Regions from separate parts of the Homo sapiens genome. Here region 1 is linked to region 2. A link means that fine-mapping ties the variant in region 2 to the expression of a gene that starts in the linked region. Tissue or cell type: uterus. Region 2 holds a variant in brackets; the other region holds the start of a gene. All regions are shown on one strand. Distances are from middle to middle.

Region 1 (8,112 bases), 240 kb before region 2:
AGTATACTGGACAATGGCCCTTCACACCCTGACTGGAACATGGCTGGACAGTGGCCCTCCATACCATAACTGGTCCCACCTTAATGCTCTCAGCTACCATGCTCTATTTCTCTGCTTTAATCACTCTTTTATTCTCCTAAATGATCATTTCATTGTTTCTCCTCTCTCATCAAACCTACAACACCTCCTCACCACGGTCACCTTGCTTCCTGTTTAAACCAGCAGAATTGAAGGAATCCAAAGAGAGCTTCTCCAAACTCCTGAAACCACATCTACCTACCGACCTGCTTCTTCACTTTTCTTCTGTTACTACATCATGTGTTAGTATGATAACATATAACATAAAAATATTTCTCAGCCAGAATTCCACCATTTCCCATTGGTAGCTGAGAATATATTTAACAACTTGAAGCTATTATGTATTCAATATTACTTTCATGTGAATTTTGCCCTCTGTCAATTATAAGCATCTTATATGATCTATAATCCATAGGTAGTTGGAACTGTTATTTAATTCAGGTGACAGTGATTTGGGCAAAAGTCTTTAATAATGCTTTGACATAACCCTTTGGCTCTTTCTGTGACTTAAACCTTACACCCTAGACTGCAGGCATAGTTTTAAACATGAGGGCTTTCATGTTTAGCAAGAAGCTACACAGTGTGTATAAAGGTGGAGGAGTTGTGATCAGAAAAATGATGTCACGATTAAATTATGTCTCCTCTCAGTGAGCCTGTTTTCCCACTTATAATATAGGAAAATTGGACCAGAACTAGTGTTGTCTTAGCTATTGCTTGTTTTTGTTCTGCTTCTTCAAATAAATGCACCTGAAACCACTGTATCTAACATGGATAAAGGTGTAGCTGCTCTGGTTGGAGCTGGGCAGAAGACCTTCACCTTAACTCTATTCTGTTCTGGGATAATTTTGAAACACAGAGTTCTCTTTATTTGTACACTGGGCCCTCCCTATCAGTGGGTACCACATCTGTGGGTTCAATCAACCACAGATTGAAAATATTTGAAAAAAAAATTGCATCTGTACTGAAAATGTAAAGACTTGTTTTTATTGTCACTATTCCCTAAACAATAAATACGGTATAACAACTATATAATATTACATTGTATTAGGCATTATAACTAATCTAGAGATGACTCAAAGTACACGGGAGGATGTGTATAGGTTATATGCAAATACCTTGCCATTTCACATTAGGGATTTGAGCATGTACAGGTTTTGGTATCTGCGCAGGTCCTGGAATGGATCCCCTACAGATAATAAATTTTAGGATCTACTGCCTAAGGACTATTATTTTTCTCTCTTTAGGGACTAAGCAGGAAGGATCAAACTGGCCTGCCCTTGGCAAGCTCTGGTGCTCACCATCATGTCTAGGAGGCTGGGCCTCACTGGGCTCACTCACCTCACTGGGCTCACTCACTCACTTTCCGTGCCTCCGGGAAAGGATGCTCAGAATCCCAGCTGCAGCCCAGCAGGCCCACCCCTGCTCTGATCCTCTGTGTAGCTGAAATCGCAAAGCAAAAGTTAGTTTTATTTTCTTGAAGTGCAAGTTCAAATTATGTATTTCCTCCCATAGTCTCTATACAAGCTAGATGTGCATAAAAGTCTTACATAAAATGATGGCTAAACCTTGGAGGATTTTATTCTTTAATTAAATGTAACTTATAGGACAGAGTATGGCATAGCTGCACATGGCTACAATTTTCTACATGGTTTTGTATGCTTGGATTCCTGATCTCCTGGTCTATGTTTTACCCAGGTTTTTTAGCCTCACCCCAGAGCTTTCCACCTCTAGAAATATGCTGCACCGTCACCATGCTTGCTGGAAAGTTTCTTGTTTAAAAATTCTGCAATCAGCACAAGTTACATCTATTGATTCTCATATAAAAATAGTGATATTTCTCATTCCTTTTAAAATGGTTTCATAAGAAATAGCTTATGCACACTTGCAAGTATGTTCATTTTCAAAGTTCTGTTTTACTTTTTATAATTAGTTTTTAAAGATAGCTTTTAAAGAGAGTTGATTAAACAAGACTTTAATGATTAGAAACTTACCAGGGCTTTTCTGAAAACTTCTATCTTTATATTAGAAACATAAAATAAGTCTTCATGAGGCTGTTTGATCTGGATCCCTTAGATTAGTTCCCCTTTCTTGATAATTTGCAAGAGTCACGTTCTGGAAAGCAGCTATGAGGAAGCAGAGCTGTAGGCAGAACAGACTTGGTCCTTGTTCAGTTTGCCGGAGGATATACTTGTTGAGAACGTATTGCATAAAACAATGATATCACAACCAATTAAAATGCAATAGACTGGACTGCTGCTGAGGAAATGTTTATGAAACAGATTTTCCCCCCAACTTTCTACTATGAAAATGTTTGAACATACAGAAAATTTGAAAGAATAGTGAAAAGAATACCCTTCTCCTAGGTAGCATCTCTTTGTGTACTTACTTCTAAGAAAATAAATAAAACTCAAAAAGTATGTGACAGGTACACTTTATCTCTCTTCCAGCATTCCACATTCAATGTGGAGCAAATCCTATGGGGTGTATCTTCAAAATATACCCAGCATTTGACTACCTGACACCACTACCACCTGGTCCAAGCCTTCCTCATCTCTTTCCTGGATTATAGGAATAGCTTCCTTGCCAGGTTCCCTCTTGCTGTTATTGATCTCTTCAGGGACTTCTCAAAAAAGCAGCCGGAATGACCCTGTTAAAATGTAAACATCATATCAATGTTGTGTCCAACCCTGTCTGTGGCTTTCCATCTGACAAGGCCTCACACAATCTGGTACCCTGCTAATCCTCTGATATTAGGTCTTTTATTTTTCCCTCTAAATCTGGCCCAGTCCCCTGACCTCCTCGTTGCTTCCTGAAGGAAGCACCTGCCCCTGTTTCCAGCCACTACACTTGTTTTCCCTTCCTGGAATGTCCCTGGATACCAGCAGGGCTCACTCTTTCACTTTGTTGAGATCTTTTGTCAAATGTCACCTTCTCAGCAAGGCACTGTTTGGCCAGCCTACTGAAAACTTTATCCCACCTCCCAACATTTCCTATCCCTCTTCTGGCTTCATTTTTTATCTACTTAGGACTTACAAGCAGCAAATATTTTATATATTTTAACCTATTTATTTTCTGTCCAACCCATTATTCTATGCACTCCATAAGGACAAATTTCTTTACATTTTGTTCATTATCTGGCATTGCCTAGCACATAATAGCTTCTTAACAAAAATCTGTTAAATGAGTAACACATTTTCTTAGAGTAGTTAAAAGTAATGAATATTTGAAAGGCCTTGAGCTACCAGTGTCTGTGGGTCAAAGGACTTCCTCATTTTCCTAGGGAAATTATTTCGCTTGGCTGGAACTCCAGGTAGAAATCTGGGGAAATCTCTTTACTGTGCTACCCGTTAGGCCAGAATGAACTCCAGCTTCTATCATCTGGTCACAAATAATGAAAAGGAAGTTTTTTTTTCAAAAGGAAAGCAAAACAAATGAATATATTTTCTCCTGCAGTTTTTGTAGATACCCTAGTTACAGACTACACCTTACCAACTTTCTGCTGTGTCACTCACAGTCACCGAATGAGGCCATTTCTCACACAGCGTTTTCCCTGGAGGAGGTCCCTTTTGACTCTAGGTCCCCAGTGTCTTAAGACCTTTGCTGTTTTCACCCTCTGCCTTTGCTGGGAAGCTGCTCTTCTGGCAAGGGGCTTACACTTTCCACAGACACAGTCTGCTCGGGTGAGATGCAATACCTTCTTTTAGCTGGTGTCCTCTTTCAGAAATTTAACCAGCCAGTCTCTCTCTGGAAATGCTAAAGATGGAAAAAACAGACTCCAGATTTTTTCTTTCGTTTTAGCCAGTACAATTTTAAGAGCATCTGGATGTATGCTGTTGGAACTAAGTAACAATCAAAATGACCATGATTAGTGTGGACAAATTTTGTGATTGCCTTGACTTAAGTCTTGGCTTTCTAGGGGCCCTCAGTGTCCTGTTTTGAAACAATTGTGAAGACAAATATTATCTTTAGCAACGTTGGTTATTGACAAAGGAGTTGCAGGTTGGCATCCTCAACACTTCAGTTTTCTCTCTTTGATGCTCAGCAAGAATTTCCAAGTCAGCAAACTCTCAGGGACAAGCCCACCCCATCTTTGAGAGACCCTCAGCAACACCGCTGATATCCATGCCCTAGGGAGGTGTTCTGCTCTGCAGGATTCTTAGAACTGATGTAGGGGAAACACACTTCAGAATCTGGCTGTAGCCCAGGAGAGCTACCCACACCCTCCTTGCATAGTCTGGCAGACAGAAGCCACACAAGCAAGTTAGTTTCGTTTTCCTGAAGAACACTTTGCATTTTTTTTCTTAGTTTTCAACCAGATTGCTGGATAAGATGTATGTGAATGAAATACTTTAATAGAATAATATTTAGCCTCTGCAGAGTATTAACTTTGATAAAATGTAAAAGTTTTAATAACATCTTACGTTATGAAGACAGAATTTTGTGTAATTACACAAGATCACACGTTCCTTTAGAATCTTCAGTGCTTAAATTCCTGACCCTGTTTGCATCGTTTCTCTATCCTCTTTTCCAAAGCCTGCCTGCCACAATCAGAAACCCTCCCACTATCCTAATTACACTTAATGGTATGTTTCTTTTTAGAAGAGCACTTACAAAGTTATTATCAGTTAAATATACTGACATGTATTTAATCCATTGATTTTTCTAATTACTCTAGTATTTTTATAAGTAATCGTTTATGTACAAACATATATTTATATAAAAAGTACAGCTGAAGTTTTAAAAAATAGCTGTCGCCTCAAAAGCATAACAAATAAAGGTTTAATGATTCAGTTTACTTACCAGGATTTTCCTGAAAATGTCATCGTTTTATATCAGAAACTTGAAACAGGCCATTTGAACTTTTGCTGTCTCATTCCTCTTCTGATGGCTAGGAGACATGAAGTGTAAGGATCCTTTTTTAAAAACTGAGGCATTAAATTGTGAAGTCTTCTGTTCTCCCAGTACTCTGACTTTCTGAGGGTGTGTCAGAGTGCCAGTTGAGAAGCAGGAGGAAGTTGAAGTATAGACAGTTTCAGTTTTGCTTTAGAACATTCTTTTTTCTTGAGTTTAGAAGGATCTGAAATGTTTTTTAATCAATAACATTACCAAAAATATCAATAAATTTGAATCACTGCTTAGAAACTGTTTACCAGGCAGATTTTTAAGTTATAAGAGTTAAGGAATAAGGAAACAACAAACAAACAAACAAAAAAACCCAGTGACCCAAAAAACTACCTACAGGACAAAGAGAATGGAAATACCAGGGAGAAAATTAATATGTCAGTGCAATCTAAGTTCCTGTTACTGGTTGAATTGTGTCCCCCAAACATTCATATGTTAAAGTCCTAATCCTCACTCCCTCCAAATGTAACTGTATTTGGAGATAAGGTCTTTCAGGAGATAATTAAGTTAAAATGAGGTCATTAGAGTGTCTGTAATTGAATCTGACTGTGTCCTTGTAAGAAGACGAGATTGGGACACAGACACATACAGAGGGAAGACCATGTGAAGACACAAAGAAAAGATGGCCATCTACAAGCCAAGGAGAGAGACATCAGAAGAAACCAACCCTGATAATGTCAGAGACATTCGAACCAGAGTGACTCCATTTTGAATGAGGGCTACGAAAATGAGGCTGAGACTTGCTGGGCTGCCTTCTCAGAAAGGTAGGCATTCCTAGCCTCTAGATGTTTATGATTAAGGGAGCAAATTAATAATATTTACTAAGCAGACCGTGACTTGGGAGTGTCCAGATATCCCAATATCTGGAGAACAGAGGCATTCTTAATTTTGCTTTAAAGAAAATAATATTGATTCTTGCAAAATACACTAATTAAGAAAATTAATTCTTTATCAGAAACCCTTGTAGCAAAACACATCTCTCCATATATACAAGCATTGTACCTAGGGTGGATGTGTTCCTCCTCTTACTTTCGGGAACGTCCTACTCTGTCTGTGGAGTAGCTGTCCTTTTACCACTGTACTTTCTTAATAAACTTGCTTTTACTTTGCACTGTGGACTCGCCCTGAATTCTTTCTTGCATGAGCTCCAAGAACCCTCTCTAGGGGTCTGGATTGGAACCCTGGTCCTGTAACATTTCTGGCAACCATGAGGGACCGATACTGAAGAACCTCCCCACCAACCCAAAGGAAATGGACTATAGCACTGATTGGATGACTTTGGGTAAGTGGTGGGGTACCCGGGTAAAGAATGGGATTGGGTTAGAGGCCCAACTTAGGGGAATTAGAGTCTCTCCGAAGACAGGGTGAATTAGAGACCCCTGTTAATAAAAGGCAAAGATGCTTGACTGACCTCGGATTAGAGGACCAACTTAAAAGGTTTAGAGTTCCTTCTAAGATTTAGGGGGTTAGAGGGCCCTCTCAGTAAAGTCCCTCTCTGCTAAAAAAGGGTTTGGCACTGCAGGCTATGCACTTTGTATTAATCTGCCTTGTCCTCCTTGCTGCATAAATCAATTTCTTGGTTGCTGTCTGTGTTTCACTGTCATTTTCGGGAGACTTTATCTAAATGGTCTTAGGGATTTTAACTTACTCTTTTCCTATGTGCCTCCTGATTTCCATGTGTCTGCTCTTGAAACATTGGGAACAAAAAGCATTGACGGCTCCGTCTTTAAAATTGCTGATTGAGATTTGGTATTCAACAGCTATGAGCAATAAAATTAGATTATGTTTTGTTGCTGCTATGCCGACTAGGTGTGATCGAGAAGCACTAGGATGGAAATCAGGGGACTCTGATGTTTTGTTTCACTTTGCACACTAAAAACACTTCTTTCCTTTCTTGCATTCAGGCAAACCGGCTTTGCTTGTTCAATCCACACTGTCTCTATTGCCCAGAACCTGCTTGCTCTGGTCATTCCCATCTAAATCCTCTTCATTTCCCTTGCCTTATTCAACATTTTTGTCAAAGTCCATGTTGTGGTTTATCTAAGATTCATGACTCAGCTCACTTATGTTATTTGGATAATGTGAATCATGTTTGATGAGAGGAAAAGAGGAAAAAAAGCTAGACATACTAGATGATCCTTTAATGCAAGCAACCTTGGTTCAGCAGGCAGTTTTGGGTGGAGCAGAACCTCCTTCTGTCAGCTCTGAAGGTTCAGATGTGTCTGTCCTTTCTCCCTCTATCCCCTTGGAGAACCCTTTGTCCCATCCTCCTTACCCATCTAGCCCCACTCTATACCCACCACTCCCTGAGGAACTTAGCCTGGTGAGTACTACCCCTAGTGGAGCCTCCTATCAACCTCCAAAGGGAAACCTTTGTCCACTTAGAGAGGTGGCAAATGGGGAAGAAGGCACTGTGAGAGTACATGTTCCCTTTTTTTTTTTTTGTCTGATTTGACTCTATGTAAAGAGAAGTTTGGTGATTTCTCTGAAGACCCAGGAAGATTCATAGATTAATTTGAGAAATTAATTCTGACCTATAGTTAACTTGGCAGGATCTCCATGTTTTGTTGTCTCTGTGTTGTACAGTGGAAGAGAAACAATGCATTTTGGGGACAGCTAGGGCTCATGCAGATGAGGCATTGGCTAACAACCCAAACCATAATACATATCAGGCAGGAGGTAGAGCAGTTCCAGATCAAGATCCAGAGTGGAACTATCAAAGGGGCAGTGACAACTTGGGGAGGAGCGATCATATGGTCACTTGTTTGTTGGAAGGGATGAAGAAATGTATGAAAAAGCCTGTTAACTATGAAAAATTAAGGAAGTTTCTCAGGACAAAGATGAGAATCCAGCTTTGTTTCAAGGGCATTTAGTTGAGGCAATTAGGAAATATACTAACACTGATCCTGCTTCAAGGGAAGGACAAACCCTTTTGAGAGTACATTTTATAACCCAGTCTGCCCTTGATATCCATAGGAAACTAGAAAAAGCAGCTATGGGTCCCCAAACTCCCATATGGAACAGCTTTTGGATATGGTATTTTTAGTTTTCAATAACAGGGACAAAGCAGAGGAAGCAGAAGGAGTAAGAAGGACCTCCCACAAGGTGCAGCTCTTGGCTGCAGACTTAAGC
Region 2 (8,112 bases):
TGTTTTACAGAGTAAGACTCTGGTGCTAATTCTGAATAACTGAGAACCTTATTCACCTCTCCAATTCTATGATCCAAATGCTTCCATTTCCGTCTACAGTCTAGTCCACAACCTCTTCTCAATGAGGACTGTGTCTGTCTCCTGTCTCGCAGCAGGGCTCCAGTATGAACCATGCTGTATAGAATGCATGAAACAGCAGCCTGTGGAGCAACTGAGAGCTGTCTCTCTCCTCCTTACATTTGCCGTTACAGAGCACATGAGTAGTAGCTGCATTAAAGCAGTGGGAAAATCCCTGACCCACTTTCCCACCTTTCCCTTACTTCTACATCACACAGCCGGAAACAAAGTTCGGGGAGAAGAGAGCATGAGGAATGTACTTCAAAAGCATGTCCACATCACACTTGCACAGCTTCTCTCCACATCTGTGCTTCTTCTGCTCTATTTTTTGATACGATAAGGAATGTACCATCAGCAGAAAATGGTGGGTGGTTTTAAATCTATCATCACCTTTTCACATAGGAGAGAACCAAGGTGCAAATGGCATTATACACATTGTCCCTAAGTTTGGGAAACTGGTGAGCAATAAAGTTGGATTAAGTAAATGAATGATTGGGTTGTGTCAACACCAAGCCCATGATTCTACTGTTCCTCAAGGAATGCTTCAGACCCTATGTTCACTCAAAAGTGGCATGTGTATTGAAGTTTAGCTTTTCTCCTTTTCTTCAGCAACCAACTAGACCCTCCCAATCAGCCCTGCCCCAGGTCAGGACATAGGACATGCAGGGGCATTTAGAGGGTATTAGAAAAAAGAATAATGATATTGGAAGTATGGGGAGGCTGATGAAGGGAAAATGAGTATAACATGTTTCTAGTACATTCTTCTTTCTCTTTTACCATATGCTCTTTCCTGCCACATAGTTCAGAAGGGTAGGATTTGCACGGAAACTGTCAAAAGTTGCTTCTGATTTGAGCCTAAGTGTTAAGGTCTATTTTGCCATTTCTAGCATAAACCAAACAGAGGTTTTAAAATGGCATGCTTGGGAAACCGTGGGCTTCTATGGTTGTATTGAAGGATCAATACAAGAGACTCAAATGCAATGCAAATAATTTCACAGCATTAAAGAAGGACAATGGCACAATGGATGAAAATTGGTAAATATCAGAAACCTGTACTCAAGTTAGAGAATATTTTATTAATTCAAGCAAGAGATACTAAGAACTTGGAATCAGCCAACGGTAATGTCAATGAAAAGGAAATAGCAAGTATGACAGGAACTTTGTGGGCAGAACCAACTAGAATTAGTATTTCATAAGTTGTGGAAGATTAAGGAAAATGAGGAGTTGGAAATGGCTTCAAGATTTCCAGCCAGGAGACTAGAAGGATGTTTATGGCATTAACTAAGAGAGGAGCTTGGTGAAAAGGAAAAGATGTGAAGAAATAATATTGTAGGTGGAGAAAATGTTGGGTTGGATTTATAATATGTTTCAAGTATAAATAAAAGCATGAACAAACGAACAATATGCTCCAAGTTTGTCAAGAAACTTAAAGATTGTCATTTTAATCTTTTTCTTGCTGAAATTTATAGTCTTACCAAAACCCAGTTCTTATTGGGAGATTAATGACTAAATATATATTAAACTTTCTTTCTCTAAAACTCTGTTCCTCTCTGTGGGAGATAACAACCAGCAAATTATGACCATGAATCAAGAAACCTGTAATCAAATAGTTCATAACTATGAACAGTTCATAAACAAATCACGGCTTCTTTGAAGCAGACTGTAGATTCACACTTCTCTAATAGCCTCTAATTTTGAGCAAATAAGTTAGTATGTATAATTTTCCACATTATTCAATAAACTTGTAATGATAAACCATTAGAATAATTATGTTCACCATTTTCATACCAACAAAATGTCCAAAAGATTAGGGCAGACACACTTGGAGAAGGAAGAATATTCCTTATATCATGTTCATATTTAAATTTCCTTTAAAAACTTACTTGTTGTACTCAAAATATATAACTTTACAAGATTGTATAATCTTTAAAAGTAAAATCCAGCATATTTTAGTGATCTGAAGCCATAGTCAATTTCAGACTTTCGCAACAATGATTATTCTGCTTTTGGATAAAGTGAGCAAGTATTTTCCTAATAAGCTAAAGTGACAGTTTAAGTGCTCCTCTTAGTAAGCTTCATGTTTAATTCCCATGAAAGGTTTATGGAAGGTTCTCCCCTATAAAACTAGTATATTATATTTAAATTTCAATTATATGACAAGTTACACTCATTTAACCTTTCATGCAAGATTTCTGCTCTCTGAGTTATAGTTTTTCTGCTTCTTCCAAGTGATAATAATTTCTTGTAAGCTTAAAGGCAAAAATCACTATTCACCCAAAGCCAAAAGAAAGAAAGGTAAAAGACCTGTAAAAGGCCTTTTTATTTCATAACCTAGATCAATCCATCATTCATGTATTCATTTATGTATTTGTGTACCAAGTATCTATTGAGTATCTCCATGTACAATTACTGTGACAGATAATTGCATTTACAAAGTTGACCAACATAGGCCCTCTCTTAAAGTTTAGTAAGGGATGTAGACATGTAAACTAACAAATATTGAATGATCACAGCAATGATGGAATGACTTACCAGGTGATGTGGAAACACAGAGGATGGAGGGCGATCTATACCAGAATGGAGGAAGTCAGAGAAAACTTTCAAAAAGGCTAAGCCTCAGGTGAGTCTTGAAGGATGAATGAAGCCCTTGTCTCTTTAACAACTATGCTTGAATAAAATATAAAGATGCCAAATGCTATGATTGAAAGGGCCCTGGAGACCCTTCCTTATAAACATAATCCCTGCTAACATGCCTCCTTGTAAGTCATTTTATATTAAGTCTCTGCCTGAGGAAGACCATTGTCAGATGAAAATTCTTTAACTAGAAAGGTTAACACAGGAATAAACAGCCATCCATATATTTACACATATACTTCATCTATTTCTCAGCAATGGGCTAGATGAAGAAATGGGATTCTAAGTAGAGATATTTGGCAGCAGGGAGCAAGAAGAGCCAAAATCCCATAGAATTCTATGAAGGGCAGATCCCAGTGGGGGTACAGCCATGGGGTTCAACAGACACTAGATTCTTGGCAGAGTTGTGACTACAGGTGGATGAGGAATAGAGCAGCCCTCAAGAGAAGAAGAGGGAGAAGTGGACCAACTCACTCATAATTTCTCCTCATGTTAAATCTTCCATTTCCCAGGGAGGGAGCAGAAAACACTTGATAGTTTAGATCTCCTCAAATTAGAAGGAAGCCAATCCAGTGAGCAAAAGCCAAAAGGCAAAGCTTGGGCTTCAGTTTTTGTTTGTAATTGAAAAGGCACCAAAAAATAGCCACTGAGCTGTCAAAAGGAATGTGAAGGTCAGAATCATGTTTAACTGCAAATACAAATCAAATATACAGAGTTGACTCCAAGCTGGCTGAGAAGATAGGAAACTGACACCTATTCAGCCCACATACATTGAAAAGCAAGCAGTGGTAGCCTTGCCTATAACAAAGATACTGTAAGAAATCCTGGCTTTTTAAAAAATTTTATTATTATTTTATTTTTTTAAAAAAACATGCTGAGAACCTGCACTCCCAGGAAAATGAAGTATATGTAAATTTCTCTATTCCTCCCTGGAATAAAACCCTGGAGATGATACACGGACAGATGATAGATAGATAAGAACTCTGAAAGATGCGGGGAAGAAGACAGACTAGCTAGAGACCTCAGGACCTCCTGGCAAAAAAACGGTGGTAAATCCCTTGAGTTTTCTTTTTGCTTCATATATCCCAGAGTAGAAGTTGAAGAAGCCAGCAACACAGAAAAAACAATGGGCACAGATCAGAATGAGCCCCAGGAAAAGCCTACTCTCTCTAACCAAAGGACCAGGAAAGAAGCTGTGATGGTTAACACTGAGTGTCAACTTGATTGGATTGAAGGATGCAATATTGATCCTGGGTGTCTGTTAGGGCGTTGCCAAAGGAGATTAACATTTGAGTCAGTGGGCTGGGGAAGGCAGATCCACCCTTAATCAGGTGGGCACCATCTAATCAGCCGCCAGTAAATACAAAGCTGGCAGAAAAACGTGAAGTGATGATACGGTCCTAGCCTCCCAATCTACATGTTTCTCCCATGCTGGATGCTTCCTGCCCTCGAACATCAGACTCCAAGTTCTTCAGTTTTGGGACTCGGACTGGCTCTCCTTGCTCCTCAGCTTGCAGACAGCATATTGTGGGACCTTGTGATTGTGTAAGTTCGTACTTAATGAATACTTAATAAACATGAATATATATAAAATAAACATTTATACATATATATACATATATATGTGTGTGTGTGTACATATATATATGTACGTATAGTCCGTACTGACTAATACGGAAGCCTAGCAAAAAGAAAATCTTTTAGAAAAAATTACCCCACTGCTCAAACACCCCAAATAAAATGGTGGACCCACCCTCATCCAGGCCAGCAAAGGCTAAATGAGGAGCCTATGCTTCCACCACCACCAAGCTATAAGGAGGCATCCCAACCTACCCCGACTCTCATCAGGGTGTTGTCAGGGAGAGCTGAATAAAGAGGCAGAACTTTTATCCCCACAGGGCAGTGCCAAGATTCACTCCCCATCATCACACCTGCTCACTCCCACCTTACCCTACTCTCTGTACTTTCCTCCTGA[T/G]GAGGAGCAGCAACCAGCAGGGAAACCTAAATTTCTACCTCTTCTCAGCAGCATTACAAGGAGTAAAGACAGCAGACACAAATTACCAATATCATGAATGAAACAGAGGATGTCACTATAGACTCTAAAGACAACAAAAGGGTTAGGAGGGTATACTACAGATGACTCTACACACATACATTTGAAAGCTTAGATAAAATGAACAATTCCTCAAAAAACAGAAACAATCACATCTCACCCAGCATGAAATAGATAATTTGAGTAATTCTATGGTTATTAAAGAATTTAAATTTGTAAGTTAAAATTTTCCAGAGGGGCTGAGAGCAGTGGCTCACACCTGTAATCCCAGCATTTTGGAGGGCCAAGGCTGGTGGATCACTTGAGGCCAGGAGTTCACGACTAGCCTGGCCATCATGGTGAAACCCCATCTCTACTAAAAATACAAAAATTAGCTGGGTGTGGTGGCAGGCACCCATAATCCCAGCTACTCAGGAGACTGAGGCAATAGACTCGCTAGGAGGCAGATGTTGCAGTGAGCCGAGATCGCACCATTGAACTCCAGCCTGGGCAACAGAGTGAGATTTCAAAAAAAAAAAAAAAAAAATCCAAAAGAAAAAATAAAACCAAATCTATGTAATCTCTCCCAGAGAAGGGAAGCAAAGAGAATGCTTCCTAATTCATTTTATGAAGCTGGTATTACCCTGATACCAAAATCAGACAAAAACATTAAAAAAGAGAGAAAACTACTGACCAATATTCCTCATAAATATTGATGCAAACATTATTAGGAAAATATTAGCCGATGGATTTTGGCCATATACAATGAGAATTATATACCATGACCAGGGAGTTTATTCCAGGAAAGCAAGGTTGGCTCACTAGTTGAAAATCAAAGTAACCACCATCTTAACAGATTAAAGAAGGAAATCACGTTTGTGTCAAGAAATACAGAAAAATTATTTAACAAAATTCAGCACACATTCATGAGAAAAACCCAGAAAAACTGTAATAGAGGAGAACTTTCTCAGCTTCATAAAGAGTATCTTCAAACAACCTACAGCTAACATTATACTGAATGCTTTCATTCTAAAATCAGCAACAAGGCTAAGATGTCCACTCTCTTCTTATTCAGTATAGCACTGGAAGTTCTAGCAAGAAAAGAAAGAACAAATAAAAGGAGTAGAAATAAAAGTCCTATAGATAGGAAAGGAGGAAGTCCAACTGCCCCTATTTGCAGGTAACATGAATATCTGCATGAAAGTTCCAAGGAATATATAAAAATACTTTTAGAACTAATAAAGTGAGTTCAGCAGGGTCCCACAATACAAGATAAAATATAAAAATCAGACTTTATATATTAAAAAACCACATAATGAACCATAGACTTAAATGTAAAACTATAAAAATGTTAGAAAAACACAGGAGACAATCTTTGAGATCTAGGGCTAAGCAAAGAGTGTTTAGATTTAACACCAAAAGCATGGTCCATTAAAAAAAACTGATAAACTGTACTTGATCAAAATGAAAAACTTTTTTTTCTGCAAAAACCTCTCTTAAGGTGATTAAAAAACAAGCTTCAAGCTGAAAGAAAAATTGCAAACCACATATCTAGCAAGATACTAGTATCTAGAATAGATAAAGATTTCTCAAATCTCAATAGTAAAAAAAAAAATCCATTAAAAATTGGGCAAAACACAGAAGAGATTTGACCAGAAAGGATATACAGATACAAATAAGCACATGAAAAGATGTCAAAACCATTAGCCATTAAGGAAATTAAAATTGCACTGAAATATCATTACATAACTATCAGAATGGCTAAAATAAAAAATAGTGACAACACAAAATTCAGAAAAGATAGAGAAACTGAATGACTCATTGCTGGCAGGAATGTAAAGTGGTACAATCACTCTAGAAAACAGTTTTGTAGTTTCTAAAAAACTAAAAATGTAATTTTCATATGATCCAGTAATTTCACTCCTAAGCATTTATTCCAGATAAATAAAAACTTAAGTTCACATGAAAACCCACACATGAACATTCATAACAGCTGTATCCATGATAGCCAAAATTGGAAGCAATCTAGATGTCCTTCAACAAATGAATGGTTGAAAAACTGTGGTATATTCATACGAAGGAAAACTATTCAGATACATTCAACAACCTGAATAAATTTCTAGATACTTATGCTGAGTGAAAAAGCCAATTCTAAGGTTATAATCAGTTTAATTCCATTTATATAGGATTTTTGACAGGACAAAATTATAGACATGAAAACAAATTAGTGATTGCCAGGAGGTAAGGAGGAGGTGAGAGTGAGAGGGAAGTGAGCATGTCTGTAAAAGAGCAATAGGAGGGATCCTTGTGGTGATGAAGACATCCTGTATCTTGACTATATCAATGTCAATCTCATGCCTGTGGTACTATAGTTTTGCAAGATGTTGCCATTGGGGAAAACTGGGTAAAGGCTAAAGATGATCCCTCTGTATTATTTCTTACAACTTCGTGCTAATCTACAATTATCTCAAAATAGAAAATTTAATTAAAAAGTCAAAACAAAAGTGTGCTGTTTCTCTGCCTAAGGGGACTGGAGAAATTACACGGGGGCCCAGAAAATAAGAAAGCAAGAGCCCACTCAATCCTGGCTAAGGAATTAGAAACAAAGAAGAAACTAGGAAGCAAGACAAGATTTCCTTCTTATGACTCGGTAGAGCTGACAGTTGAGCCCGACGTGGAAGGTTAGGTGGTTGGGTTATGGTCAACTGCCATTTGCCATATGCTCACTGTATTAGTCAGGGTTTTGTACAAAACCAGCAAGATGTGTACATAGACAGAGACATTTATTTTAAGGAGGTGTGTGTGTGTGTGTGTGTGTGTGTGTGTGCATTCAAGCAAGTCAAGTTTTAAAAACTAGGAAAAAAAACCATGACTCACCTGGTGGGAAAAGATAGTTATAACCATCAGACAAGGCATCCTATGCTTCCATGCTGTCTTTAACACTAGCAGAAAAAGTAACTTAAAAACTCTGCTGCAAGATGACTGGCTGTTTTCTAAACTATCTGAAGTTCTCTCAGGCCATCTGTGGGATAACTCCATTTTATTTTCTCTTCTATAAATATTTTAGGTGTAATCTCACATGCCACAATTTGTTTGTCACATGTGTCACCTGGGTATGATGGTTTGATTCATAAATTTCTCTTATTCTCTGCTAATTTTCCTCTCTCTCCTGTTCACCCCCAAATCTCAAGCTTCTCTTTTAACTCATAAGACATTTTAAAGATCCATGATCTAAGCCAGAGAGGCTGGTCTAATTGAACAGCATTGTCAAAAAAAGGGCTAATATTATATCTCCAAAAAATTACATAGTTTTTATTATTAGAATGCTT

The links. PIP is the estimated chance that this variant, and not a neighbour inherited with it, causes the effect.
Region 1: SAMD9L starts here. The variant in region 2 is fine-mapped to the expression of SAMD9L in uterus (GTEx, PIP 0.91).

What each region holds. Positions count from the first base shown.
Region 1 is chr7:93,143,316-93,151,427 of GRCh38, forward strand. SAMD9L (sterile alpha motif domain containing 9 like) reads right to left here and starts at 5,070. Exons shown (of 5, transcript NM_152703.5): 1 at 4,879-5,070; 2 at 3,568-3,831; 3 at 2,070-2,725; 4 at 1,417-1,518. RefSeq lists an enhancer at 4,270-4,369.
Region 2 is chr7:93,383,323-93,391,434 of GRCh38, forward strand. No RefSeq gene overlaps it. Among named protein-coding and RNA genes, the nearest start is that of MIR653, 95 kb to the right of the region's middle. The variant T/G (reference allele first, on the strand shown) is at 4,727.